Regions from separate parts of the Homo sapiens genome. Here regions 2, 3, 4, 5, 6 and 7 are each reported to be linked to region 1. Evidence: microRNA targets listed by miRTarBase, many of them from high-throughput screens and not tested one by one. Region 1 holds a microRNA gene; each other region holds the end of a gene's coding sequence.

Evidence for each region. Region 1 holds the annotated microRNA hsa-miR-4325 (UUGCACUUGUCUCAGUGA, at 1,288-1,305, opposite strand). A microRNA usually pairs through its seed, bases 2 to 8, with sites in the 3' UTR of a target mRNA and lowers its output. Matches are read on the target gene's strand: a 7mer-m8 pairs with bases 2 to 8, a 7mer-A1 pairs with bases 2 to 7 and ends in A, and an 8mer does both.
Region 2: the mRNA of GOLGA6L4 is a reported target of hsa-miR-4325. Seed matches in the 3' UTR shown: 7mer-m8 at 1,394-1,400.
Region 3: the mRNA of ZNRF3 is a reported target of hsa-miR-4325. Seed matches in the 3' UTR shown: 7mer-A1 at 2,852-2,858 and 7mer-A1 at 877-883.
Region 4: the mRNA of C1GALT1C1 is a reported target of hsa-miR-4325. The part of its 3' UTR that is shown has no 7-base or 8-base seed match.
Region 5: miRTarBase lists DENND2C as a target of hsa-miR-4325. Seed matches in the 3' UTR shown: 7mer-A1 at 2,386-2,392.
Region 6: miRTarBase lists ZDHHC24 as a target of hsa-miR-4325. Seed matches in the 3' UTR shown: 7mer-A1 at 2,114-2,120, 7mer-A1 at 591-597 and 7mer-A1 at 261-267.
Region 7: the mRNA of IPP is a reported target of hsa-miR-4325. The part of its 3' UTR that is shown has no 7-base or 8-base seed match.

What each region holds. Positions count from the first base shown.
Region 1 is chr20:57,320,277-57,324,370 of GRCh38, forward strand. It overlaps MIR4325 (microRNA 4325), which reads right to left and starts at 1,315; the gene lies at 1,226-1,315. All of the region lies in intron 2 of LOC105372687 (a long non-coding RNA gene), which reads right to left.
Region 2 is chr15:84,241,995-84,246,088 of GRCh38, reverse strand. GOLGA6L4 (golgin A6 family like 4) reads right to left here. Exons shown (of 9, transcript NM_001267536.3): 8 at 3,840-3,942; 9 at 731-3,629. The coding sequence ends at 3,497. Among named protein-coding and RNA genes, the nearest start is that of GOLGA6L4, 8.3 kb to the right of the region's middle.
Region 3 is chr22:29,052,942-29,057,034 of GRCh38, reverse strand. ZNRF3 (zinc and ring finger 3) reads right to left here. Exons shown (of 9, transcript NM_001206998.2): 9 at 1-3,456. The coding sequence ends at 3,413. Among named protein-coding and RNA genes, the nearest start is that of C22orf31, 6.8 kb to the left of the region's middle. RefSeq lists a silencer at 1,540-1,834.
Region 4 is chrX:120,622,858-120,626,857 of GRCh38, reverse strand. It overlaps C1GALT1C1 (C1GALT1 specific chaperone 1), which reads left to right. Exons shown (of 2, transcript NM_001011551.3): 2 at 1-1,184. The coding sequence ends at 648. Among named protein-coding and RNA genes, the nearest start is that of C1GALT1C1, 5.2 kb to the left of the region's middle.
Region 5 is chr1:114,582,160-114,586,159 of GRCh38, reverse strand. It overlaps DENND2C (DENN domain containing 2C), which reads left to right. Exons shown (of 21, transcript NM_001256404.2): 21 at 529-3,310. The coding sequence ends at 560. It overlaps LOC105378914 (a long non-coding RNA gene), which reads right to left. Exons shown (of 3, transcript XR_947719.4): 1 at 3,761-4,000; 2 at 3,522-3,635. Among named protein-coding and RNA genes, the nearest start is that of BCAS2, 2.5 kb to the right of the region's middle.
Region 6 is chr11:66,536,245-66,540,338 of GRCh38, forward strand. It overlaps ZDHHC24 (zDHHC palmitoyltransferase 24), which reads right to left. Exons shown (of 3, transcript NM_207340.3): 3 at 1-3,580. The coding sequence ends at 3,285. Among named protein-coding and RNA genes, the nearest start is that of ZDHHC24, 7.8 kb to the right of the region's middle. RefSeq lists an enhancer at 3,356-4,094.
Region 7 is chr1:45,696,406-45,700,499 of GRCh38, reverse strand. IPP (intracisternal A particle-promoted polypeptide) reads left to right here. Exons shown (of 9, transcript NM_005897.3): 9 at 310-1,789. The coding sequence ends at 534. Among named protein-coding and RNA genes, the nearest start is that of TMEM69, 10 kb to the right of the region's middle.

The sequences.
Region 1 (4,094 bases):
ACTGATGAACAGATGAACTACATGTGGTCTCTCCATGCAGTGGAATAGCATTTGACCATAACAAGGAATGAAACACAGATCTATGCTGCGTGGCAGTATCTTGAAAACACTACACTCAGTGAGAGAAGTCAATCACAAAAGGCCACATACTGTATGACTCCATTTATGTGAAATGTCCGGAACAGACATATTCATAGACAGAAAGTAGATGAGTGGCTTCCAAGGGCTGGGGGAAGGGAGAATGAGGTGAGACTACTAATAAGTACAGAGTTTCTTTTGGGGGAGACAAAATGTTCCAAAATTAGATTGTGAGGATGATTGCACAACTTTTTCAATACACCAAAACCCATTGAATTGTATACTTTAAAAGAATGAATTTTATGATGCGTGAATTAGATCTCAATAAAGATGATTTTAAAATGTTTTCTGAGGGGCTGGGTGCAGTGGCTCATGCCTGTAATCCCAGCACTTTGGGAGGGTGAGCTGGGTGGATCACCTGAGGCCAGAAGTTCAAGACCAGCCTGGCCAACATGGTGAAACCCTGTCTCTACTAAAAATACAAAAATTAGCCAGGTGTGGTGGTGCACGTCTGGATTCCCAGCTACTCGGGAGGCTCAGGTACGAGTATTGCTTGAACCCCGGAGATGGAGGTTACAGTGAGACGAGATCACGCCACTGCACTCCAGCCTGGGGGACAGAGCAACACTCCATCTCAATAAATAAATAAATAAATGTTTTCTGAGGATCCCTGGTTTTCAGAGTGTTCAGGGAGTTGGTGGGGGTGGGGGACGTGTCATGAAAATATAAGTTTAGTGAATGCAGGCTAAGCAAGTCCAGCAACAGTTTTGATACAGGTCTTCTCAGAGACTTTAATTTGTGGATATAACTAGTGATACTCCCAAAAGGAGTATGTACTAATACCAGATAATGCTTATTGAGTATTCGCAGTGTTCTAGTCATCTATTAGCTTATTTATATGTATATTAACTAATTTACTCCTCACATTAGCCCTCTGAGATGGACCCTATTATTCCACTTTAGAAATGGAAAAACTGGGGCACAGAGAGGTTGAGAATCCTGCCCAAGATCACACAGCTAACAAGAGGCAAAGCCAAGATCTGAACTTAAATAGCCTTGCTCTGGGATTCACGCTAGACTGCTTATCTTGGTACAGTGTACAACATTTCCAAAACAGGTTTGACCATAGCTTACTTGAATAGGAACAATCTCAAAGGATCTGCCTTCTCTCCATCCTTGAGGTCTGCCTCCTGGATCTAGAAGCATCTCTCACTGAGACAAGTGCAACATCTTCCCCATCTCCTTACCTCCACTCTCCCTCCCCACACTGCACTCTCCTTTTTTAACACACACGACATCCTTCCCTTGCTTCAGACCCTCTGATGGCCTCCCACCACTCTTAGACCAGCGTTTCTCAACCTCAGCACTATCAATATCTGGGACTGATGAGTTCTCTGTGGTAGGGGCTGTCCTGTGCTTTGCAGGACATAGGCAGCATCCCTGGCCCCTTCCCACTAGATGCCAGGAGCAACTGCCCCCAAATGGGTGGCAACCAAAAATGTCTCCCAACATTGCCAAATGTCCTTTGAGGGGCAAAATCGCCCCCACTGGAATCACTGCCTTAGAACAGAGTCCTGTTTCCTCACTGTGGCCGATAGACGTCCCCGCTCATCTCTCCATCAACGTTGGCCTGCTCTCTGCCCTTTAAGTTCTCCCAGTGAATCTCTCCGCAGGGCCTTTGCATAGCTCCTCGCTCCCTCTGCCTGGAGCTCGTCCCCTCAGATCTTCTTCATAGCTAAGGCTTTAGCTCCAAGGCCCTCACCTGAGACAGGTTTCTTCTGCCCTCCTCTCTCCCACCTTCATTGCACTTTCCTGCCCAGTCACCCACTTTCCTACCACACAGATTGTTTTTCCCTCTAACACACTGTGATTGAACTTAAATTGTGTATTTTTTTTCCTTCTTTGTTTTTCTTTAGACATGGGGTCTCCTTCTGTCACCCAAGCTGGAATGCAGTGACTTGATCATAGCTCACTGCAGCCTCAACCTCCCGGGCTCCAGTGATCCTCCTGCCTCAGCCTCCCAAGTAGCTAGGACTACTGGCATGAGCCACAATGTCCAGCTAATTTTTTAAAAAAATGTTTTGCAGAGATGGGGTCTCAATGTGTTGCCCAGCCTGGTCTCAAACTCCTGGGCTCAAGTGATCTTCCTGCCTCAGCCTCCCAAAACGATGGGATTACAGGCATGAGCCACTGTTCCTGGACTTTTTTTTTTTTTAATCTGCCTTCCCCAGCAATGTGTGTGCAGGAACTTGGTGATGCCAAGCTTGGTTGAATCTCCAGTACTAAGAAGGGCCCTGGGAACCATGAAGGTGCTTAAACCATTTGTTGGATGAATCATAAGCCTGCCAATGTGTAAATTGGGCAGCCCTTCTGGTGTGTGCCTAGGAGTGGAAGAGACAGAGATGTGGAAAGGAAAACACCTTTTGGGGTTTCATCGCCTTGGGTTTGAACACTGGACATGCCTTCTGGTCCTTTGCAAAAGTGCCTCTTTCTCCCAAAACCAGTTGCCAAGAAGTCTTAAAAAATGGAAAACAAACAATAAAAAAGAAAACGAAGAAGCGAAGGGAGAGAAGGAAAATTACTTCAGTTTTAAAAGTCTCCTTAAATCAGAGCAAGTCTCTGTTTAATGTTGACTGATTTTCAAATAAAGCAGAGATGAGGTTTTGGAGCTAGCTGGAAAACACTTGTGATGGGGTGTCTCTAGGTCAGGGCCTCAGGATTCCAACCAAGGGGGAGGGTGGAGGAGAGCAATTAGCAGCTCAGCGAGGGTGTGAGGAGGAAAGAAATAAAGAGCAGAGAGGATGAGTCAGGCTGGGCTGTGGCACAAAGCCACCCTGCGTGCTAACAAGCAGAAAGCGAACCAGGTCGGGGAACCTCCCCTGCAAATCCCCAGGGCGACTCAGTGCAGCAGAGGGAAGCTGCTTTTTCTAAAGCCCTCCTCAGCTTTCTCCATCTGGGTCTGTAGTCTGTGAAGGGATTTTGCAGGCTGCAGAGATTTTGCTCAGCATGACTTATCCTCCCGGGCTTGGCTGCTACTTCAGTGAATGAGAGGCTGAGATTGAGGCTAGCTCTGAAGTTCTCAACCTGGAAGCCCCAGCCAGAGGAGTTCTGGAAGGTTACAATGGAGGTTCTAAATATTTTAAACCTAGGCCGGGCACGGTGGCTCATGCCTGTAATCCTAGCACTTTGGGAGGCCAAGGTGGGCGGATCACCTGAGGTCAGGAGTTCAAGACCAGCCTGGCCAACATGGCGAAACCCCATCTCTACTAAAAATACAAAAATTAGCTGGGCATGGTGGTGGGTACCTGTAATCTCAGCTACTCAGGAAGCTGAGGCAGGAGAATCACTTGAGCCCGGGAGGCGGAGGTTGCAGTGAGCTGGAGATCACACCACTGCACTCCAGCCTGGGCGACAGAGCAGGACTCTGCCTAAAAATAAAAAATAAATATTTCAAACCACCTACGAAATATTTTTATGAAAAAAAAATCAAACCAGAAACAGTTAAGCCTCCAAATTCAACTCTCAATTTATAAGAAATACCTGAAACAGAAAAACATAGTAAATTATATCACAGGGATGCAATCCCCAAACTCCTAATTGCACAAAACTCTCTGGGACTAATGACTCAGTTTCTTCAACAAGTAAATTGCAAGGAAAGAAAACTGGAGAAGAACCTATAGAATTTAGGAGACTTAAGAGTCATATCAACCAACAGCCATGTGTGGATGGACCTTATTCGCATCTTGATGAAAACAAACTAAACAAACATAACAAATGCCGCATGGTCTCGCTTATATGTGAAATCTAAAAAAGCCAAACTCATAGAAGTGGGAGTAGCATGGTAAGCAACAGAGTGGGGGCTAGGGGACTGGGGAGATAGGGGTCAAAAGATATAAAATTCCAGTTAGACAGGCTGAATAAGGTCAAGAGATCTACTGTACAACATGGTGCCTAGGTAGTTCATGACAAGCTATTGTATTCTTGAAAATCGCTGAGAGTACATTTTAGGACTACCT
Region 2 (4,094 bases), not on the chromosome of region 1:
GGAAGGGGGGCCACCCCCAGCAGCCTGTGCCCTGGCCTGGTCTACAGTTAACTCCACTGTCCCGCCTCAGCTGCCTCTCTGAGTAAGAAGATGGGAGCCCCCCTGAGGGAAAAGTTGCTTTGGTGAGAGTAAGAAGGCCGTCAGACCTCCTCCAAACAAACCAACTCCACCAACCTCTGGCTCTTAAATAACAAACATCATCATCCAGAAATGTAAGGACTCAGCCTTGGTCAAGGTGGTAAAGGGTCTGTTTGTCTCCCTCCATTAGACAAGGGTCTTGTCTTGCTACCCTAATGGTAAAGGGCTGACTGGGGAGGGGTTGTAGGGACATGGTGGGGGTGAAGACTCCAGACCCACTTCTCCAGGCTTATGCTGACAGGGGCCTGCTTTTATTTATTTTTATTTTTATCCCATGACTTTTTTTAAATCCTGTAACTAATTTTTCATAACTTTTTAAAATAACTTTTCATAAAACTTTTTTTTTACTTTTTTTCCACAACTTTTTTTTGCCACTTTTCCACAGTATTTTTTTATCCTGTAACTTTTTCATCCCACAACTTTAATTTCTGTTAACTTTTTTAGTTTGTGTTCTTTTAATAAACACACTTACATAGTTACAATTTTGTAAGAATAAAAACCGATTACCTCATGCCAAGCATGCCGAGAATTTGCAGAGTCTCAATACCCAATACTATAGTTTTCAAGACACACAAAATTTTTAGGCAAAACAGCACCTTGAAACAATTTAATAATGTATTACATTACAGTAGCATCACAGAAGCAGTCAATAATGCCACTTTAGACAAAAATCAGTATTTCCATTATGCATTCTGTGTATAAGAATTCATAAATCGGTAAAAGTCATTCTAAGAAAACTTGGCAAATACAGCTTTGGACTGGAATTGGCATTTCTTTGTCTACTTTTCCTTCCCCTAGATTCTTTGTTTTAAACTACAGTATTCATATTTTAAAATGTTTTAAATTATTTTAAGACGTTAATATAGCAGTTACATTTTTGAATAGTTATTTGAAAGTGACTGTAAGATAAAGTTTTAGAGAATCTATTATGGATAGGGTTGATTTACATTTTCACATTTTCTAAAAATCAGCTTTGGTTTTAGAACTGATTGTTTTTCATTTTGGGAAAACCTACCAGGTTTAATCAATTACTTTAAAAATAATTATCATATTTTGCAGTCTTTAAATAGGTGTTTTGATTCTTTACTCCCTAGAGAAATTCAAATTTATTCAGTTGAAGTCACATTTTAAAATTCTATGTTCCTGCTGAACTCTAACCTTCTAATGTTGCCTTCTAAGCAAATTAAAGGCTGCCTTATACTGAATGAGGTAGAGAACAAATACTTGGCTGAATGAGGTACTGCAAAAGACTGCATGCACTTTGAAGAAAGACTTGAGTTATTGTCATAGGATTTCCATTCTCTTTAGCTTTTTCTTAAACATATGACAAAATACCTACACAAAGAGTCGTATTTGAATTAATATAGTATATTTATTTTTCAGACTGACATTCATCTTAAATATGCCAGTATGTGATTTAATCCACAGGTACCTGATGAACACATTATTGTCAGATTGGTTACAGTTGCTAAACGCTATCTGAAGGTCATTCCTATTCATTTATACGTGTCAGGGTAAAAGTGAAGCGATTTGAACTATAAAAATACCTTTGAAATAATTTATCAATGTATTAGATAAGCTCAGTTTCAGAATGATAAACAAAAACTGTTAGACCAAATAACGTGGCTAATTAACAGTGGTACGATTTCTAGCCCGAGGGTTTAAAATGGAGTTAAAGTAAGTGTCTTTAAACTGAACTCAAAGAATGCAAAAGCGGCAAGTTCAGACAAGGCAAGAACAGGACCTTTAGTCCATTTTAAGCCATAAATATTACACAAAATATGCCTCTAACTGAAACTGAGAGGTATAAAAACATATTTCACTCTTCGTAAAGAACTTTGTGAGGAAATATAACTCTGTGATTGTATAGACACTTTCCTCATGACACTTTGACAGTCACAAACAGTAGATTGCGCTGCAGTTTGTAAACATTTTACGTTGCATAAACTGCTCCTTGATTTTCAAATGTAGTATAATACTGTCTACTAAAACTCCTTTTTGTTTCAACTAAGTACTCTCACATATATTAGTTTATAATAATGTTTGTTATTATTTTTAAAGTGTTCTCCATTCAAGGAAAAGAAGTAAATTCCTATGTCAGATGGTTGAAGACTAGCTATTAGCCAGAGAGGTCTAGATGGTAAAATCCATCTTCTAGCCTCAAATAAGCTCCATGAACACAGAGGAATGCCAGGTGTCACACAGCTTTCCTTCACTCGAATTCATTCTTGACTAGAGCCTGTATATGCCTGTTCCAGGGGCATTTAAACTCTTAAAGGATTTCTTCTGATCTTTACTAAATACATTAAGGAGAACGCCAACCAGTGCCCTTTTGTGTACTGGGACATGTAGTCATGTGATTAAAACAGGGAACATGAACGCTGACTTTAAAATGTATTGTAGATATAAATGCTCTCAGCTAGAAAAGGTTTTCCACATCCACAGTCATGATGGGAGCCTTTCATTCCTCAGAAATAATCCCTTTTCAGGTCATCAAAAAAGAGTACAACTGCCACAGCTCATGAGGCAGTATCTTCATGAGCCCAGAGCACATACAAATCCTAAGGGAACTACCGTAGTACAGCGCTCATTCTTGGCACCGGAACAAATGAAACATATTCTATCCTGCACACACCTGCCAAAGCAGGCCACTTTCCTCTTCTGGGAGATTTAAAAACCTCCCCAAAATGTTATTACTCCCATCCCCAATACACAGAAAAAGGGGGAAAGGCTGTTTCCAGTGCTCCACCTTTAAACAACTGTAAATGTCAGTACTCACAGTGGCATATTACAAAGTAATAGACCGCGCACTTGAGGGCAAACTGCATATTGAGCTAATGAAGAGCTCACTGTGATTAGGATTCGATCAAACATAACAGCAGAACATAAGGAAATTTTATCTGAATTCCGTAATGAATATACAGGCTGTACTAACATTCAAAAAGCATGGCAGCCTATCCCAAACCAGCAAGAACAGTTGTGTGCATACAGTGGGTCTTTGTGTGTTTGAACTCCCACCACATAAGGGCAAACTCGATATGCATGCTAACGTCCTATAATTATCAAATTAAAAAAATGCTAAAAGATGCCAGAGTGAACATGAGAGAAACACCCACTCTCATTTAACTTTTTACAAATAAATTTAAATTATAAATTAGAAACACAAATAAATTTAAACTATAAATTAGAAACACAAATAAATTTAAACTATAAATTAGAAACACAAATAAATTTAAACTATAAATTAGAAACACAAATAAACATAAGTGGCTCTAACATTCAAATGAAGTAAATGAATTGTGTAGGATATTAACCCCTTAAATGTTTTGTTTTTTTTTTTCAATTCCTTGACCCGCTCTTAGATGATGGTGATGTTTAGCTCCCTGTTCTCCGCAGCCCGAAAAGAATGGCATGCAGCCTCTCCTGCTCCTCCTGCCGCCTCTCCTGTACCAACAGCTTCTCCACTCAAGCCTGGGTGCTCCTGGGGAGTCCTGCATTAGAGGAAGCAGCTGCTGGATCTGCTGTGCAGTGGGGTTGTCATGGGGGAGAACCCTCCCTGTCCTCTCCCGGTGCAGCCTCCATGCTATCAGTGAGGCTCAGCCCACTAAGATCTTCAGAGAGAGGGAGGGGGGTGGGAATCTGGGCACAGTGCGAGCCTCCCCTGCTCCTGCCTGCCCACCCCGCCTGAGGGCTCTACTCACCACCCTGCTTGTCCGCACATCCAAGCTCCTTGTGGGACTGGGGCTCCAGCTACTGGTCTGGCTGCTGCTGCAGACTCGGAGCCTCTTGGCTCTTCAGCTCCACCTGCCGGAAGACCCTGGGCATGAGGACATGTGGTGGCTGGCTTCCAGATTCCTGGCCCATTAATAGGGTAGCGAGGACACTGTGGGGCTCTGTGGCCTGCCCAGGCCCCTGGCCCCTTGCTCCAGGCCTAAGAGACTGTCTCCCTTGCCTAG
Region 3 (4,093 bases), not on the chromosome of region 1:
GACCAACACAATAGAAAGAGTTTACATAAAGAGTAGAAAAAGGCAGTTCTGTTTAAAGAATAATAGTCTCGACTAGTAATTATTTTTTAGACCTCATTTTAAAAGCATTAGTCCTGCACGAACTTCGAGTAGAGACTAGCAGCACATAAGTATGTGAGCAGTGGGACAGAAGGGGCTTTATTTTATAAAAGGGCTTGGATTAGGAGGAGACAGGGAAGGAGCTGAGAGTTAAAGCCAGCTTACTGGGGCTGCATCCATAAAGAGGTACCTTGTTGGTAAACACCCAAACTTCCATTTTTAGCTGGTTCTAGAACTCTTCACTGTATATGGCTGTCCTACAGCCAGGGCTGGGTCACTTGACCCTGCCCAACTGCCACACCCCAACTTAGAGGGATTGGGGGCAGGGGTTCTCAGTGGAAAGTGAGATACTCCTAGTTTCCATGGCTATAAAACCACTACACACCACTCAGAGTCCACCGAAAAGGGTGTCTGTCATTGGTGGAGTCTTACAACTTCAAAGAGGACATTTCTTTTGATTTACGTGTGACAAAATAAGACCATCGGTTATTTTATTCCAGTGATCTCCCTGTCTGAGAAGCCAACACGAATTTAAAAGACAATGGTTGGTATTGCTGGGCAGGCATGGTGGCTCACGCCTGTAATCCCAGCACTTTGGGAGGCCGAGGTGGGCGGATCACCTGAGGTCGGGAATCCAAGACCAGCCTGACCAACATGGAGATACCCTGTCTCTACCAAAAATACAAAATTAGCTGGGTGTGGTGGCGCATGCCTGTAATCCCAGCTACTTGGGAGGCTGAGGCAGGAGAATCACTTGGACCCGGGAGGCAGAGGTTGCAGTGAGGTGAGATCGCGCCATTGCACTCCAGCCTGGGTGACAAGAGCAAAATTCCATCTCAAAAAAAAAAAAGGCAATGGTTGGTATTTGGTATTTAAGGTTTTAAAATTGCATTTTTGTTTCTACCACCTGTAAGCTACAAAAATTAAATGGGTTTCTTTCGCCATCTGCAGCTATCACTTGTTCAAGTGAAAACTAGACACACTTACTTTAATAAGCCCAGTTGAAGCCACATTCTCTACTCATCTATTTATTGCTTAAGGCTATTGAGAGGTGGTTTTCCAGCCAGGGCTAAAGAAAGCCACTTTGGGAGTTCGGTTTCAGACGAGGAAGAAAATATGCACTCAAAGGCATTAAAAACAAAACAAAAAAACCCCCCAGAAACAACAACAAAAAAATATCAGTGAGAAGCTGCTTTTTGCAGTTCATATTAAAAGCCAGACCCTGCTTCCCTAAAACCACGCAATGCAAGCTGCTGTCCTTAGCAGCTGCTACTCCTGGCCCGAGAAATGAAGGCGTCCCAGATCACATGTCACCAGCTTAGGCGCTTCTCACACCCTCGATAACAGGTGTGCGGGGCGCAGTCCGAGGAGCAGCCCCCAAGGGACTGCACCCGAGGACGGAGAACGGATCTCACCAGTGAAGCCTCAGTGGCAAATGTTTTGATCATTTGATGTTGGAATTTGTCAAATCCTAGCTAGAGATAAGTAAATTTCCTCATCATACGCTGAGGTTAAGAAAAACATTCTGATAAGAGTGAGATTCTCGTTCAAGACTGGAGAACCCAGGTGGTCCTTGTTCTCCTACCCACAGGGGGCCAGGTCTCAAGTTTCCTATTCTCAAGCGAGCTTTCAGACCCACTGGGCCAGTTCTTTCAGATGGCAACAAATATCTGATGAATGAATGAATAAATAAATACAAGTGACCAGAAGAGTTAGTGAACACAAAGACTAATATTAGTTTCCTCTAAAAAAAATTTTTTTAAAGAACAAGGAATACATTGGACAAAAAAGGATGACAATCCCTGATCTGAAATAGCTTTAAATAGATTCTCTCTCCCTTTTAAAAATGAAACACCTTAAAACCACAACGGTTTGGGTTTTTAAACTCTCCCCTTCCCCTTAATAAAAAAGGCTGGAAAAATATACAAAAACCTACCCTTTGGGTGTAAACTATCTGATAGTCTCTCTCTCTCTCTGTCTCATGGAGAATCAATACATAATAGTGCATTAGGTAGACAGGATAGTAGACATCTGCAGACGAGATGAGCAATTTCAGCCATGAGGCAGAGGACTGAATAACCCTGAAGCGGTGCTTCCGTGGGGGAAATGGGATAGGAAAGGTATCATTCAAATGGAGCTCAGTGCAGACCTCGTAGGTCCAGTCACATGCCCCCAGAAAGGCAGCCCAAGGAAGCAGCAGCCAAGGGGTGTGGCTGCCCCCACACAGATGCAGGCGCACTGCACATGGGTGTGCTGCTGGGTCAGTGGAGAGCACTCTCCCCCAGCCCCATCGGACACCAAGGCCACAAAAGTACATTCCTTCTGGGTGTCTGTCCCCACACACCCCGTCGAGCCATTTCTGCAGCCAGTGGCAGGGGGCCCAAAATATTTTTGCAAAGGACTCCAAAGCCAGGACAACCAAAGGGGACAACCTCCTCTTCCCTGCCCGGAGGGTCAGAGTTCAGGTCGAGGGCCCCAAGAACATGCCCTTACTATGACCTGGACCTCAGCCAAGACCAGGGCTGTGAACTCTGTCATTTCACTTGGGACCATGACCTGAGGGGACAGACTGAGGACACTGGGCAGAATCGTCCCCATCACCCTGGAGCTTTCATAGCAGCGGCTTGACCTGGCTCCGCAGGGCTGTGGATCATGTACACCCTATTCCTAGCTGCTGCCATCACCTGCCTAAAGGCGTGGGCTGGAGAGGCATGGCGTCTGAGACCTGAAATCGTGTACATTGGGATTTGCCACGAGAAAGAAAGAGGCAGTTTTGCACTGCTCCTCAGAGCCTGTACCCCTATCAACTAGCTTTACTTCAAGTTTCTGGTTCATTTTCTAAGGCAGGTGAAGCCCTGAGCTTTTCAAAGGCCTGAGCTCCCTTCAGGGAGACAACAGTATCTACACATGATGTGGTTCATTTAATGCAGCAGTGATTTTTTTTTCTTTTTCAGCAAAAGTTGGCAGTTAGGGTTCTTTAAAATATATATTTAAATAACTTTTTACATTTACATACAATATCTTAAAAAAAAACAAAGCAGAGAACTCAATCCCACACCTCGGAACCCCAAGCACACACACTTTACAAAACAGAACAACATGTTATCAAAAGAGGCAAAGGACTCGGAGAATTTTGTCTGTTGATTTGTTAATGGGGTAGGGGGTGGTTTTGCCACAGGGGGCTCACATTTTGGGTTGACAAGGAGGGCTCTCTTTATTACCACTTTTGTGTGTTTGTCAAAGCTAAAAAAATTTTTTGTTTTTGTTTTTTGAAAGAAGTCAGTTTGGAGTCTCCATACAGTTCCCAATTTCCAGGTAAGAGTTCCTCCTGAGCTCAGGCTCCCGGGCTGCTGCTGTCTGCTGAGTGAGATCTCGGTCCTGGGAAAGAGAGAGAACAATCATCAGGGGAGGGAGCTGGCACCACACATGGGACCAGGCAAGGGACTCAGGTGGCCCTGTCCCCAGCATGTGGCAGGCCTGTGTATGCTAAAGGGCTGAAGCAGGTTCCTGTTCCCAGAGGGGCTCCATTTGTGCTGAGAGCACAGGTACCTCCTGGAGAGCCAGCCTCTCACTTGGATGTAGAGAGCTTTCTAGAAGCCCTCAGGTAGCACGAAAGCCCAATATATTAAAGATGTTAACTGGGTGCCCGGTGTGCGTCAGGCCTTGGGAAAAGCAGCAGAGAGGACTCCCTCACAGAGATTACGAACCTTGAGACAAAGTAATTTAGCAATAGGATGACAGAAGTGAACAGAAGGTGTGTAGGTGATCTCAGAGGGGGCTGGAGTGTTACCTAACCTAAGATCTGGAGGAGAAAAGTAGCGGACAGGTCTGGGGGCTGGAATGAGCTTGGCACATGGGAAGAACGGGACAGGGGCCACAGGAGGTGAAAGCAGGAAGCAAGGAGAGTGAACCAGGAGCTCATCAGATGGGTTGGCAGGAGCTGGATCACACAGAACTGAGTGAGATGCTAACATTTATTATTATTTTTGAGACAGGGTCTTGCTGTGTTGCCTAG
Region 4 (4,000 bases), not on the chromosome of region 1:
AATGTTAAAGTGTTTGAGTCAATTAATATGGACACAAATGACATGTGGTTAATGATGAGAAAAGCTTACAAATACGCCTTTGATAAGTATAGAGACCAATACAACTGGTTCTTCCTTGCACGCCCCACTACGTTTGCTATCATTGAAAACCTAAAGTATTTTTTGTTAAAAAAGGATCCATCACAGCCTTTCTATCTAGGCCACACTATAAAATCTGGAGACCTTGAATATGTGGGTATGGAAGGAGGAATTGTCTTAAGTGTAGAATCAATGAAAAGACTTAACAGCCTTCTCAATATCCCAGAAAAGTGTCCTGAACAGGGAGGGATGATTTGGAAGATATCTGAAGATAAACAGCTAGCAGTTTGCCTGAAATATGCTGGAGTATTTGCAGAAAATGCAGAAGATGCTGATGGAAAAGATGTATTTAATACCAAATCTGTTGGGCTTTCTATTAAAGAGGCAATGACTTATCACCCCAACCAGGTAGTAGAAGGCTGTTGTTCAGATATGGCTGTTACTTTTAATGGACTGACTCCAAATCAGATGCATGTGATGATGTATGGGGTATACCGCCTTAGGGCATTTGGGCATATTTTCAATGATGCATTGGTTTTCTTACCTCCAAATGGTTCTGACAATGACTGAGAAGTGGTAGAAAAGCGTGAATATGATCTTTGTATAGGACGTGTGTTGTCATTATTTGTAGTAGTAACTACATATCCAATACAGCTGTATGTTTCTTTTTCTTTTCTAATTTGGTGGCACTGGTATAACCACACATTAAAGTCAGTAGTACATTTTTAAATGAGGGTGGTTTTTTTCTTTAAAACACATGAACATTGTAAATGTGTTGGAAAGAAGTGTTTTAAGAATAATAATTTTGCAAATAAACTATTAATAAATATTATATGTGATAAATTCTAAATTATGAACATTAGAAATCTGTGGGGCACATATTTTTGCTGATTGGTTAAAAAATTTTAACAGGTCTTTAGCGTTCTAAGATATGCAAATGATATCTCTAGTTGTGAATTTGTGATTAAAGTAAAACTTTTAGCTGTGTGTTCCCTTTACTTCTAATACTGATTTATGTTCTAAGCCTCCCCAAGTTCCAATGGATTTGCCTTCTCAAAATGTACAACTAAGCAACTAAAGAAAATTAAAGTGAAAGTTGAAAAATATCCCTGAGAAAAAAAACTGAAAATTACTTACAAAATTGAGTAATTTTCCTGGAAGCGAATTTAGTGTCATTCCTCAGAGCATACGCAATTTCAGTGTAACTGTCTGTACTTCAGCCTGCAGATACTGACATTGGATTGGTGCCTATGAAGAATGTCATGTCATTTAATTGTGTTGTTTCTCAGTTAATCAAGCTCCCAGCTGCAATTTGGATAAAAATGTAGTCCTGCTGGGTCAATGAGTTCTGTGGAAATTTGAAGAACTTGTTTTGGCCATCTGGCAGTTTCACTTACCTGAGTTGAATCTGTTCTGTATTTTGTTTTGTTTTGTTTTGTTTTTTTGACACAGAGTTTTGCTCTGTCGCCCAGACTGGAGTGCAATGGCACAATCTCGGCTCACTGCAACCTCTGCCTCCTGGTTTCAAGCAGTTCCCTTGCCTCAGCCTTCCAAGTAGCTGGGATTACAGGTGCCCACCACCACACCTGGCTAATTTTTTGTATTTTTAGTAGAGATGGGGTTTTGCCATGTTGGCCAGGCTGGTCTCGAACTCCTGACCTCAGGTGATCACCCGCCTCGGCCTCCCAAAGTTCTGAGATTACAGGCATGAGTCCCTGCGCCCAGCCTGTTCTGGATTTTGTTTCCTTGTACAAGTTCAGGGAATTTTCCCATGTTCACAGCTGTACCATATCTGTTTTCAGTGTGGAGGTCCTAACCTATCTACTTTGCATTACCATACCTTTTCCCAAATTTCAATGGCTACTCAGAAACTTAATCCAGTGGTAAATGCAATAGCTCCTGTACTGATAAATGTGTGAAATACTTAGAGCTGACTTGTTCTGCAATCTGGCCAGCACATGCTGTGAGTCCGCATAGAGTGTTAGAGCATGACATTTTAGAGATCAATATTTCTTGTAACTGGCCTCATGATGGTAATGGTCTCCCACAGCTTTAGCAAACCAGAAAGAAAATTTCCTTAAGATGGCCTTGGGCTTGAAGTTATTGATCCTCAGGGTAGTGTGTAAAACTTTGCTTTATTTCTGATTATTCTCATTGAGGGTTTTGGTTAAGATGAAGCGTTATTAGTTTTGAAGAATAACAAAACCCCTTTATGAAGCCCCCTAATATGTGGTCTCAGATGCAATTACTACAATCAAATCATGTTCAATGTGAGTACAGTAATAAACAGTATCTCTCAGAGTGTGACACAGCTTATCTGTCACCTTGCCCCCAACACCAGTATATTTAAAATTTTTCTATTGCATTTATCATCTTCACTTACATTAGTACATCAGAGTATCATCATAAACATGTCAGAATGCATTGCATTGTGTGTTTTGCTAATGAGTACTAAGGTAACATTGCCTTTTAAGCCAAATTGATGCTCTTGATTGTATCTTTATACATATTTTTTTTTTTTGAGACGGAGTTTCGCTCTTGTTGCCCAGGTTGGAGTGCAATGGCGTGATCTCGGCTCATCCCAACCTCCACCTCCCGGGTTCAAGCAATTCTCCTGCCTCAGCCTCCCGAGTAGCTGGGATTACAGGTATGTGCCACCACGCCCAGCTAATTTTGTATTTTTAGTAGAGACAGGGTTTCTCCACGTTGATCAGGCTGTTCTCAAGCTCCTGGCCTCAGGTGATCCGCCCGCCTCGGCCTCCCAAAGTACTGGGATTACAGGCGTGAGTCACTGCGCCCGGCCGATACTGAGTATTTTTTTAACGAAATGTTAGGTGTCTCAAATAATATGCTGTCTCTCTGAACTTACTTGCAGCCAGTCTTGCAGATAAAATCTGAATCAATAACAGAAAATAGTACTACTGAGGTTGTGGTTACAGATTTGATCACCATATATGTCTGTTAGCTTTACATAGAAAAATAATATATTCAGTAACCGAAAACAATAACCCTAACCCCACTCATGATGAGAGAGTTGGAAAAAATGGAGGTCTGATGGAAATTGATCGGGATTGTGAATATACTCTACATACGGCTAGTGGCTGTCATATTGGACAGCACAGGTCTAAGCAATTCTAAGTGTAAGATCCCACTCCTGGCTGAGATGTGAATAAGAGAAAACTTGAAGTTTCCTCTAAAAGTTGTATTTGTTTGTCTGGTTGTCTCAAATGCAATGGAAACCACAGCATGACTTTTAGCAGGCCCCAGACCATTGCCTTGTGTGAGTTCAATCACTGAATCTTCCTTTTCAAAAGTAAAACATTGGATCTGGAGCAAAATATAGATTTAGACCCCTTGGCTATTTTCTGGGGCGGTGGGCTGGCAGGGGAGTAAGCTAAAAGGTTGCTTGTGTATCAAATCTGATTCATAATGCCCAGATTTTTCTATAATGCATTTAAACAAACTCAGTTATTGGGTGTTCTTAAAGCAGGGCATACCTGTAATAGAAAAGTTGCTGAAAATATAGTCTAATGATGATGTACCGCTAATTTCCCTTTCATTTGTTAAGAATATTGTGTTCTGGCTGGGCACAGTGGCTCATGCCTGTAATCCCAGCACTTTGGGAGGCTGAGGCTGGCAGATCACCTGAGGTCAGGAATTCAAGACCAGCCTGGCCAACATGGTGAAACCCTGTGTCTACTAAAAATAGAAAAACTAGCTGGGCGTGGTGGCGGGCACCTGTAATCCCAGCTACTCGGGAGGCTGAGGCAGAAGAATTGCTTGAACCTGGGAGGTGGAGGTTGCAGTGAGCCAAAATCGTGCCATTGCACTGCAGCCTGGGGGACAAGAGCGAGACTCCATCTCAAAAAAAAAAAAAACAATATTGTGTTCCTTTTGGTATGGGCTGACTTTGATGCACTCA
Region 5 (4,000 bases), not on the chromosome of region 1:
AGGGGTGTGGCTAGCCTAAAATAATGAATAACCTATATGCTACGATATTTATATTTTGTCTTTGAAATATATGCCCCCTAATTAGGCCCTGTCCTTCACTAGCTGACAGACCATGGACAAATTAGGCCTTAGGCTGTTATTTCATCTTTATACAATGGGGTTAGATTAGATCAGTGGTTCCCAGCTCTGACTACATTTTATAATTTCCAGAGAACTTAAAAAAAATTTTCCCCTGGGCTCCAGGAAATCTCTGGGGAGAAGCCAGGTGATTTTAACCTATAGTCAAGGTTGAAAACCACTGGATTACATGATGTCTGAGTTCTTTTCTGCCGCTACAATTAACTAGACATATGGGGTTTGGGGTTCATTTTTGTTTTTGTTTTGGGGGTTAAACACATCAACTGAGTTTGAGATGTCAGCTTAACTCTTGGGCTGTTCTGAATGACTGACCTGTTAATCCCTTACCTCAAATAATGTACAATAAATAAAAATGAATTGAGCATTCACTGTACTTTTCTTTCCCTTTAGGAAGCAAAATGAAATTTCTGCAAAAGAAATGAAATCTCTGATTGTCTCCATCCTGAATATACAACAGAAAGTGCCAAAGAAAATATTTTTCTAAGGGTCAGGATCCCATGAAGTATTCTACAAAATTCTTGAAATTTTAAAAGGTTAAAGAGCGAGTCAGGCTGTTAGAGGAGGATTCTCCTGTTGCTGCTGTAGTAATCACTGGAGAATTGTTGGGAATGGTCTGGCACCATGCCATCTTTACTCTGTCTCCATTTTTTTTTTATAGCAGCCTTTTCTATGTGATTCTTGGGCTCATTCTCTGTTTTGTGCTTTGTCTGTGAAAGTAGTTGTGTTTCACAAGGAAAAGCCTTGTTGTTGTTACATTTAAAAAATAGCTCAAAGATGAGAATAATGAGAGAAATGCTGAGTTTAAGGTAGTAGAGAGACATGATGGAAATGGAGAACACTAGCCTTATACACATAATTCTCATCACTGAACTATCATGGCCCCTTTAAACCCATGGGCTGTTTGACCTGGGCTAAGGAATAGACTCATCACATATCTCCATTGTTTTGCCTTATATTATATCTAGGGGAATCTCACTTAGGAGGAAGCCCTACTTGTAATATTATAAGGTACTGTTATTAAGTACCTTATAAAATTAGACATCTTGCAACTCCTCCTCCAAATTATGTGGCATTTGAGTAGTTTGCTTGTGCCTCACATGTCAACATTAAACTTTGTGGAGGCTGGATGCAGTGGCTCACACCTGTAATCTCCACCACTTTGGGAGGCTAAGGCAGGAGTTTGAGGGTGGGAGTTTGAGACTAGCCTGGGCAACATAGCAAGATCCCATCTCTACAAAAACATTTTAAAAATAAGTAAATAAATTTAAACTTTGTGAAATTATAGCTAATATGAAAATGTCCTTTCAAGGGCATGGGAGCCACCTTTATTTTTTAGTGTCCACCATGTGCCATGCACTGTGGTATATGTATGCATATCATCTCAACCAATCCTTAAATCAACCTTATGAGATAGATATTTGCATCTCCATTTTACTAATAAACTGAGGCTGGGTGCTATGGCTCACGTCTGTAATCCCAGCACTATGGGAGTCCAAGGCGAGTGGATCATTTGAGGTCAGGAGTTCGAGACCAGCCTGGCAACATGGTGAAACTCTGTCTCTACTAAAAATACACACAAAAAATTAGCTGGGTGTGGTGGCAGGTGCCTGTAATCCTGGCTGCTCGGGAGGCTGAGCCATGAGAATCGCTTGAGCCCAGGAGGCAGAGGTTGCAGTGAGCCGAGATCGCGCCACTGCATTCCAGCCAGGGTGACAGAGCGAGACTCCATCTCAAAAAAAAGAAAAAAGGAAAAGAAAAAAGAAAAAAACAAATTCAAAGAAGTTAAATACGTTGCCCAAAGTTGTACAACACAGAACTGAAGCCAAGACTTTTATGGACACAGAAAAAGTTGGTTAGTCCTACAGATGGAAATTTCATCTCAGTAGGATTATATAGCTATTTCTTTTATTAATAAAAATTTTCTATTAAGTGTACCAGAGCCACTTTTCAGCTCTGAGGATAAGGAACTTTATAGGTGCCTAGATGAGACTCTTTTTATTCCCCTAGAAATGTTGAAATTTTTGCTCTAATTAAATTAGACTCAAAATATGAACATTCCTTGAACATATACCACTTAGTCATCCAGACCTTTAATATCTAAAGTAGTAGTAGTAGTGATTGGAAAGAGAAAGTTTTCAGTGATGGTGCAGTGTTTTTTTTGTGTGTGTATGTGTGTGTGTGTGTGTTTTGTTTCGGTTTTTTTTTTTTTTTTTTGAGATGGAGTTTCGCTCTTTTTGCCCAGGCTGGAGTGCAATGGTGTGATCTCGGCTCACTGCAACCTCCGCCTCCCGGCTTCAAGCAATTCTCCTGCCTCAGCCTCCTGAGTAGCTGGAATTATAGGCACCCGCCACCACACCTGGCTAATTTTGTACTTTTAGTGGAGACGGGGGTTTCACCATGTTGGCCAGGCTGGTCTCGAACTCCTGACCTCAGGTGATCCACCCACCTTGGCCTCCCAAAGTGCTGGGATTACAGGCATGAGTCACTGCACCCGGCCTGTGTGTGTGTGTGTGTGTGTGTGTGTGTGTTTTCAAACTCATGGGCAAATTCAAGTTCAGATGGTGCACTTTTCATTGATTAATGTTATAGCAAATGTCAGTTTGTTTTCTTCAGTTTCTGCTGATGGTTTTAACTGGCACAGAAAGTATTTATTCAACCTTACAAAACTGTGTAAGTTGTATTGTGATACAGTTTATTGACTTGTACAGTATTGTCATTACAACCCATTCAGGTATGCATGAATCTGAAGCAGAACACCATTTAAGACTGGTGCTGTATAATATAATTCCTACAGATGTGGGTCCAGGGAATAGAACTGAGCCTGTCTTTTTTTTAATGTTAAGCAGGTTACCCCCAGTGGGGCTTCTACTAGACATCTCTCCATTTGGTCTCTTCTTACACTCCAACCCAGCAGGAACAGTTAATAATTGGATGTTTATAAAATGGGGGTAAAAGGGTTTACTGTGATGGATCCTGGCTATCCCTCTAGGAGGAGACCTTTGCTTCAGCAATGGTGTCTTCATCCTCGCAGCCTGAAGCTGCTTCATTTCCTTAGGTCTGTTGTGTTTTCTGTAAAGTGTTAGGAATTCTGGATATTTTTGTAAAAGAATCAAGATTTGTATAAAATGTTGTTTACAGATCTTTTAATGAATAAATACATAAACCCCCCACAGATCCCTTGGAGAATTCTTTAAGATCTTTTATGTCACTTAAATCTATAGCTAGCACATTTACCTAATGGTACTTCGGTAATAAGAATTAGTCTTAGACTGACCAGGCTTAATAACGGAGGTCAACATTTCCAGGCTCTTGGCAGACAAAGGCTGGGTCTAGACTGCACACTGGGCAGGGCATATAGTCTGACAACTTTATTTGGTTTTTACCTGCTTAATCAAAGGGAGGCTGCTTAGTCCAGGAGCCATGCAGAAGAGAGTGCATGGGCAGCAGCTTGAGTGGTTCGGAGGCAGTGAGGAATGCCATTCTATTACCGTTAAGTCCTAAAGGCAAAATGACAGGATTTTTAAGGAACTGAGGTTCCTTTTGATACGCAGACCATAAAGCTTCACAATTTTAATTGGAGACTGGCGCCCAATTCTAGAGTCTCTTTAAAAAATGTACTTACCCAATGCAAAGGTTTTAAGGGCACCGAGGGGGAAGGATAGTTGGGGTACAGCAAGGAAGTAAAAGAGGAATGACCCGGGGTGCAGTGGCTCACGCCTGTATTCCCCACATTTTGGGAGGCCAGGAGTTCGAGGCTAGGCTTGGCAACATAGAAAGGCTCCATCTCTACAAAAAAAATTAAAAATTAGCCAGGCATGGTGGTGTGCACCTCTAGGCCCAGCTACTCGGGAGGCTGAGGTGG
Region 6 (4,094 bases), not on the chromosome of region 1:
CTCACTAATTAAAAACAACAACAACAACGAGTCCAGGCATGGTGGCTCACACCTGTAATCCCAGCACTTTGGGAGGCCAAGGTGGGCAGATCACCTGAGGTCAGCAGTTCAAGACCAGCCTGACCAACATGGTGAAACTCCATCTCTACAAAAGTACAAAATTTAGCAGGGCATGATGGTGGGTGCCTGCAATCCCAGTTACTTGGGAGGCTAAGGCAGGAGAATCGCTTGAACCCAGGAAGTGAGCCAAGATCGCGCCATTGCACTCCAGCTTGGGCAACAGAGAGACTCCATCTCGAAAAATAAAACAAAACACACAAAAAAACATGAAAATAAGATATTGTGGGCTGGGCGCAGTGGCTCATACCTGTAATCCCGGCACTTTGGGAGGCCGAGGCAGGTGGATCACCTGAGGTCAGGAGTTCCAGACCAGCCTGACCAACATGGAGAAACCCCGTCTCTACTAAAAATACAAAAACAATTAGCCGGGCATGGTGGCACATGCCTGTAATCCCAGCTACCGAGAGGCTGCAGCAGGAGAATCGCTTGAACCCGGGAGGCGGAGGTTTCGGTGAACCAAGATCGCATCATTGCACTCCAGCCTGGGTAACAAGAGTGAAACTCTGTCTCAAAAAATAAAAAGAGAAAGAAAGAAAATAAGAAATTGTGGAGGGCGAGGGATGAAACAGGACAAGGTGAGTCTGCTAATGCGTCTGTGCAGCCCAAAGTGCCAGGTACACCAAGTTCCTCCTGTCATTAAAAAATAGCAACAGAGCATGCCTGTTACAAAAACAACCAGCCAAGCAGCTCAGATCTTTGTGGGCATGGGCAGAGCCTGTCAGAGGGTGGGTTTCTCTGAAGGTTCTTGGGGGTCAAGCATGTTCTTTCATGGGAGGCCCCCCAGCAGTATCTATGGACTTTCACTTAACCCCATTTTTTGGTCTAGCCTCTCACCCACCCCTCCCCAGTACGCCTAAGACCCGAAGCTTCTCTGGTTCCATTTATCCTTCAAATAATCCTCACGTCACACCACCCCACCCAGAGGTGTAGCTGCTGGCTGCATGATGTGGGTGGGGTGTGGGTGGGATGTGGGGGAGCGGCACCCCACTGATCCTTACATAGACTTTCCATCGGTCCCCATTGTTGGCCGAAGCCTCACCTCACCCTCCATGGTCCTGGTGGAGTTCCTGAGCCCCTCCGGGGCTCTGGCAGGTAATTCCACTTGCCTTTTGGCCCCACCTTTTGGGAACACATAATTTCAGCTCTTAATTCTCCATCCACTTTCCATCTTTGAAAATGTCAGCCAGGCGGCCGGGCACGGTGGCTCACACCTGTAATCCCAGCACTTTGGGAGGCCAAGGCGGGCAGATCACGAGGTCAGTAGATCAAGACCATCCTGGCCGGCCAGGAGTGGTGGCTCACACCTGTAATCCCAGCACTTTGGGAGGCCGAGGCAGGTGGATCACAAGGTCAGGAGATCGAGACCATCCTGGCTAACACGGTGAAACCTCGTCTCTACTAAAAATACAAAAAATTAGCTTGGCGTGGTGGCAGGCACCTGTAGTCCCAGCTACTTGAGAGGCTGAGGCAGGAGAATGGCGTGAACCCAGAAGGCGGAGCTTGCAGTGAGCCGAGATCGTGCCACTGCACTCCAGCCTGGCAACAGAACAAGAGTCTGTCTCAAATAAAATAAAATAAAATAAAATAAAATAAAATAATAAAAAATTGTCAGCCAGGCACGGTAGCTCACGCCTGTAATCCTAGCACTTTGGGAGACGGAGGTGGAGGCAGGTGCCAGGAATTCAAGTTCAGCCTGGCCAACATGGTGAAACCCTGTCTATACTAAAAATACAAAAAAATTAGCTGGGCATGGCCAGGCGCAATGGCTCACACCTGTAATTCCAGCACTTCGGGAGGCCAAGGCGGGCGGATCACAAGGTCACGAGTTTGAGACCTGCCTGGCCAACATGGTGAAACCCCCGTCTCTACTAAAAATACAAAAATTAGCCAGGAATGGTGGCGGGCACCTGTAATCCCAGCTACTCGGGAGGCTGAGGCAGGAGAATCGCTTGAACCCAGGAGGCGGAGGTTGCAGTGAGCCGAGATCACGCCATTGCACTCCTGCCTGAGCAACAAGAGCAAAACTCCGTCTCAAAAAAGAAAAAAAAAAAAATCAGCCGGGCATAGTGGCGGGTGTCTGTAATCCCAGCAACTCGGGAGGCCGAATCACTTGAACCCGGGAGGTGGAGGTTACAGTGAACCGAGATCGTGCCACTGCACTCCAGCCCCGGCAACAGAGAGAAAAAAGAAAATGTGGTCAGGCTCTGTGTTCTACTGTCTTCCCTCCTGTTTTCTTTCCCTTTGTATTATTTTTGATTTTCTTTACTATCATCTTAGAGAGATCCTAAGAGAAAACTGAGACGAACACATGTGTTTAGGCCTGCCATGTGGAAATGGCGGTCTCTATTCATTCTATTTACACGGAAACATTTAACAAGCAGCTCTTGAGGAGGCCAGAGAGGTGCAGGCCTAGCCCTGTCAGCACCACCCTCCACAGATGCCCAAACAGCCCCAGCGCATTTCTTTACCTTGATTTCTTTCCTACTCATTTCCTCCAGCTGTGCAAGGGTAAAGGCAAAAGCACAAAGACCTGGGTTGGACCCTGCCTCCATTTGCCGCACCATGATCTTACCACATGGATTCTTAGAGCGTAACTGCTGCCCCATGGACCAGGTTAGCTAAGAGAGGTTCCATGAAACTGCTGTTGCAGAAATGCTTCTAACTATAAAATGCCAAACCTGGGAAAGAATGTTTGGATTCTCATAGCCTGGATCAGTAGGACACTGCCTTGGCGTGCTGGTGCCCCACCCCCAACTCACCCAGGCCAGGGGAGGTAGAGCCCCAGCCCCTGAGACCCTCAGGCATCCTGCAGTTTCCAGGCCCTACAGAGGGTCCCAGAAACAGCCCCAGCAACAAAGTGAGGGGCCAGAAACTATGCAAAGATGGAGGGAGGCTGAGAAACAAGTCAGTGCTTTATTAACCTGGCAAAGGGGCAGCTAGGCGGCCTGAGCAGCCCCTGCCAGACCCTCCTCTGCACTCCTCTGCCTAAGTCACGGCCCAAGCCCTGGACACGTAGGAGTGTAGGCGGGCAGGGGCAAGGCCAAGGAAGGGGTGGAGTTGTCCAATGCAGATGTTAAGGTCCAACCCGACTTCCTTACTGAGTCTAGGTGTGGGGGCCCCCCTCTCACCCCTTCCTCCCTGCACAGCTCTGGCTCTTCCTGGAGTCAGGAGGCTGTGTGTCCCACATCTGCTGTGGTCTGGAAGGTGATCCCATCCCCAGGCAATGGGGAGGCCAGGAAGGGCCAGAGCCAGACGAGGGCCCAGCGGGGCCCCAGGGCTGCCTGCAGGTTGTGGCAGGGACCCAGGTCATAGGAGTGCTGGCCCCGAGCCCACTCCCATGTGGTCTGGCCCCGCAGCAGCAGCATCCCATGGAAGAGCAGCCCAGCCCCGCACAGCAGCGCACCCGCCACGCACGTGTCCGTCACGAAGGCCAAGGCAAACTGTGCCAGAGACACTCTGCCTGCAATAAAAGAGCAGAGAGGGTCAGGGAGGGGCAGTGGGGTCCGGCTTTCCTGCCACCTGCTCCCCTCCACCACAAAGCAGGGCTCATTCCTCCGCTCAGCAAACCCTGTGTCGATACTCGCTGGCCAGCCCGTGCTGGGTGACAAGAACGCACTGGTAAACTGGGCAGACGCAGCCCCCTACTTGGGATACGGCTTCATTCCTGCATCACAGACTTGGTGAGCACCTCCTCAGCCCTGGAGGCGGTGCCAGGCACTAGAGGGTGTCTCTGCCCTTGGGGAGCTCACAGACATTAAAGAGGCCATTCTTGGCTGGATGCGGTGGCTCACACCTGTAATCCCAGCACTTTGGGGGGGCGAAGCAGATAGATCACCTGAGGTCAGGAATTTGAGACCAGCCTTGACAACACGGTAAAACCCCGTCTCTACTAAAAAATACAAAAATTAGCCAGACGTGGTGGCAGGCGCCTGTAATCCCAGCTACTCAGGAGGCTGGGGGGCTCAGGCAGGAGA
Region 7 (4,094 bases), not on the chromosome of region 1:
TGTGGTGGTGTACACCTGTAGTCCTACCTACTCAGGAGGCTGAGGCAAGAGGAGCTCTTGAGTCTGGGAGGTTGAGGCTGCGCTGAGCCGAGATCGTTGCTGTGCATTCCAGCCTGGGTGACAGAGCGAGACCCTGTCTCCAAGGAAAAAACAAAGCAAAAAAAAGAAAAAAAAATCTGTATGCTTACCTGACTAGATAGTTTTACATTTAAACATGTAAAAAGAACTGGGATATCGAATTTCTCAGTGGATTTCTTTACTATCATTTCATAACACTGCTAACATATTTTTTTTTTCTCTCTTAACCAGGAAAAGTGGGTTGAAGTTGCCTCAATGAAAGTGCCTAGAGCAGGCATGTGTGTTGTGGCAGTCAATGGTCTTCTGTATGTTTCTGGAGGTCGATCTTCCAGCCATGATTTTTTGGCTCCAGGTACCTTGGACTCAGTTGAAGTTTATAACCCTCATTCAGATACATGGACAGAAATTGGTAACATGATCACCAGTCGTTGTGAAGGGGGCGTTGCTGTGCTATGAAATATAAAGCATAACAGAGCACAAGGAACATTTTGAAAATGCAGGACCTGACCTTTTGCAAAGCAAACATAGATTTGGTGATAAGACCCTCTGATTCTGTGAGTTTTCCATGTATTTGGTAGATAAATGACTAACGAGGCTGGGCGCAGTGGCCTCATGCCTATAATCCCAGCACTTTGGAAGGCTGAGGCAGAAGGATCACTTGAGCCCAGGAATTTGAGGTTGTAGTAAGCTACGATCATGCCACTGCACTCCACTCTGGGCAACAGAATGAGATCCTGTCTCTTAAAGAAAAAAAATAAACTCAAGAATGATTTTTCTAAAAATATGAGTGAGAATGGATATGGAATATATCCCAATTAATAAAGAGCTCACACAGATTTGCCAGGTTTACTAATAATAGAAATGCCATTTATGCTGTAGAATTCTCCAGTTTAAGTGTAGACAACTCCTATTTTACAAATTTGTAGAAATTATTTACTAGAAGCTTCCTGGCAAATAGTCCCTTTAGCTACTTCTCCAGTGCAGTATAAATTGTAACATAAAACTTTATGTGATATAGGAATAGTGTCAATGACACAGTTTAAAGACCTCTATATTCACAATTATATCCAGAGCATAATTTTCCATGGCCATAGTTTGAGCCACAGAGAAAGCCAATGAAATAGATTCCTACTTTTATTTAATGCCAAGAGTTTTCACTAGCCCCAAACTTTTTATTGGCAGCAGATATCCTAGGAGGGGTGTTTGGGAAATATCTAGCTATTTTAATAGATAGATACCTTTTTGCTTGATGATAAGTTTTTGCTTGCTCATATTTTTTGTCTTGATCCTGAGAATGCAAGTAAGGAATTAATAGGAGGTTCTTAGTGACCAGATGTTGTAATGGGCTATACAGTCCAGCAGGCAGTATGCACCTAGAAATTTCTCCCTTTTTTAGGCTGGGCATGGTGGCTCACACCTGTAATCCCAGCACTTTGAGAGGCCGAGGTGAGACGGGAAGATGGCTTGAACTCAGGAGTTCGAGACTAGCCTGGGCAACGTGATGAGACTCCGTCTCTACCAAAAAATATATAAAAATTAGCCGGGCGTTGTGGCTTGTACCTGTGGTCCCATCTGCTTGGGAGGCTGAGGTTGCAGGATCACTTGAGCCCAGGAGGTCAAGGCTGCAGTGAGCCAAGATTGTGCCACTGCACACCGGCCTGGGTGACAGCATGAGAACCTGTCTCAAAAAAAAAAAAAAAAAAAGAAAAAAAAATTCTTCCTTTTTTGCTAGATTGTTGTCACCAAAATTATCTGTTTGGCTTTAGGAAGAGGGAATTTTATTAGATTATCAAGCTTTGTAAAATTTATTTGTACTTGGGCAAACCTAAGTAAGAGCATACTGCAAAGCTACTGCTTGGATGTAGAGGGCTAAATTGTAGGTACTTCTGAAACTTTTTATAGATACTGACTCATAAGTGTAATTTGAAAGTACCCCTTGACCCAAACAAAACTGCTTCTCAAAACTTCTCATTTTCTCCCTGAGAAGCATTCTAAAGAATTGTTCTCTGTTCATTTCTAAGAGAAAGATTTACTGGGTGTATGATGCGGTTACTTTTAAGTTATTTCTACTGGCCAGTTGGAGCAATATATATTAAAGGTCTTGCATACAGTAAAAAAAATTTTTTTTTGAGATGGAATTTTGCTCTTGTTGCCCAGGCTGGAGTGCAAAGGCGTGATCTCGGCTCACTGCAACCTCCGCCTCCCGGATTCAAGCGATTCTCCTGCCTCAGCCTCCCAAGTAGCTGGGATTACAGGCGCCCACCACCATGCCTAGCTAATTTTTCTGTATGGGGTTTCACCATGTTGGCCAGGCTGGTCTCGAACTCCTGACCTCAGGTGATCCACCTGCCTTGGCCTCCTGAAGTGCTGGGATTACAGGCATGGGCCAGCGTGCCCGGCTGCATACAGTAAAATTTAACTAGTTGACTTAAGGATTTGATTTCCCGTTTCTTTTTTTTTTTTTTAGATGGAGTCTTGCCCTGTCACTCAGGCTGGAGTGCAATGGTGTGATCTCAGCTCACTGCAACCTCTGCCTCCCTGGTTCAAACGATTCTCCCGCCTCAGCCTCCCGAGTAACTGGGATTACAGACGTGAGCCACCATGCCTGGCTAATTTTTTGTATCTTTAGTAGAGACGGAGTTTCACCATGTTGGCCAGGCTGGTGTTGAACTCCTGACCTTGTGATCTGCCCACCTTGGCCTCCCAAAGTGCTGGGACTATAGGTGTGAGCCACCGCACTCTGCCGATTTCCCATTTCTTTGCTAAGGTCCTTCAGTATATTACTATAAGCATCATCAACTTATTTAGATAGAAAACTTTTAATTGCATTAATGAATTAGGTAGCACTCATATCCAAATTATTTGGTTTAGGCCGGGCACCGTGGCTTATGCCTGTAATCCTAGCACTTTGGGAGACTGAGGTGGGCAGATCACTTGAGGTCAGGAGTTCAAGACCAGTCTTGCCAACATGGTGAAACCCCGTCTCTACTAAAAATACAAAAAATTGGCAGCAGGTGGTGGTACATGCCTGTAATCCCAGCTGCTGAGGAGGCTGAGGCAGGAGAATCACTTGAATCCAGGAGGTGGAGGTTGTAGTGAGCTGAGATCATACCACTGTGTTCTAGCCTGGGCCATAGAGCAAGACTTTGTCTCAAAAAAAAATAAAACAAAAAATATTTGGTTTAGTCTACAACTATACCTTCCTTATAACTTAACCATATGCATTTATTAGGAAAAGTTTATGTAATGCAGACAGGAAGCTCTATGTTCCCTTCTCTGGGGCATCCTGAACGTCTGAAGGGTCACAGATGTCTGTGTAGAGATCTGTAAGATGTCAAAGAATAAAGATAATTTATAGACTAAGCTATAACTCATGTGCCTTTACTATTTCTAGTTACAGAGAATCTGTATTCTGATTCAAAACAGATTTACAAAATACTTCTACAACTAATTTCTCATTGTCTAGTAGCAACTGAAAATGACACTTTGAAGGGGTGTGCTTTGCACAGCTGTGGCAGAAATGTAATGTCAAGGCAGTCAGTGTTTTAACAGGTCCCGAAGATCCCTGAAAATAGGTGACTGTAAATATGCTTATTATTCCTAGGTAATGACAAGATTGGTTTTGTTTTTGTTTTTGTTTTGAGATGGAGTTTCGCTCTTGTTGCCCAGACTGGAGTGCAATAGCATGATCTTGGCTCACCGCAACCTTTGCCGCCCGGGTTCAAGCGATTCTCCCGCCTCAGTCTCCTGAGTAGCTGGGATTGCAGGCATGAACCACGAGGCCCAGCTAATTTTGTATTTTTTGTAGAGGTGGGGTTTCTCCATCTTGGTCACGCTTGACTCGAACTCCCGACCTCAGGTGATCTGCCTGCCTTGGCCTCCCAAAGTGCTGGGATTACAGGCATGAGCCACCTCACCAGGCTAACAAGATTGTTTTTAAAAGAATGTACTAATAAAGTATCTAGTTTTTTTGTTTCTTTGTATTACTTTATCAGTGGCATTCTGGGTTACCAAAC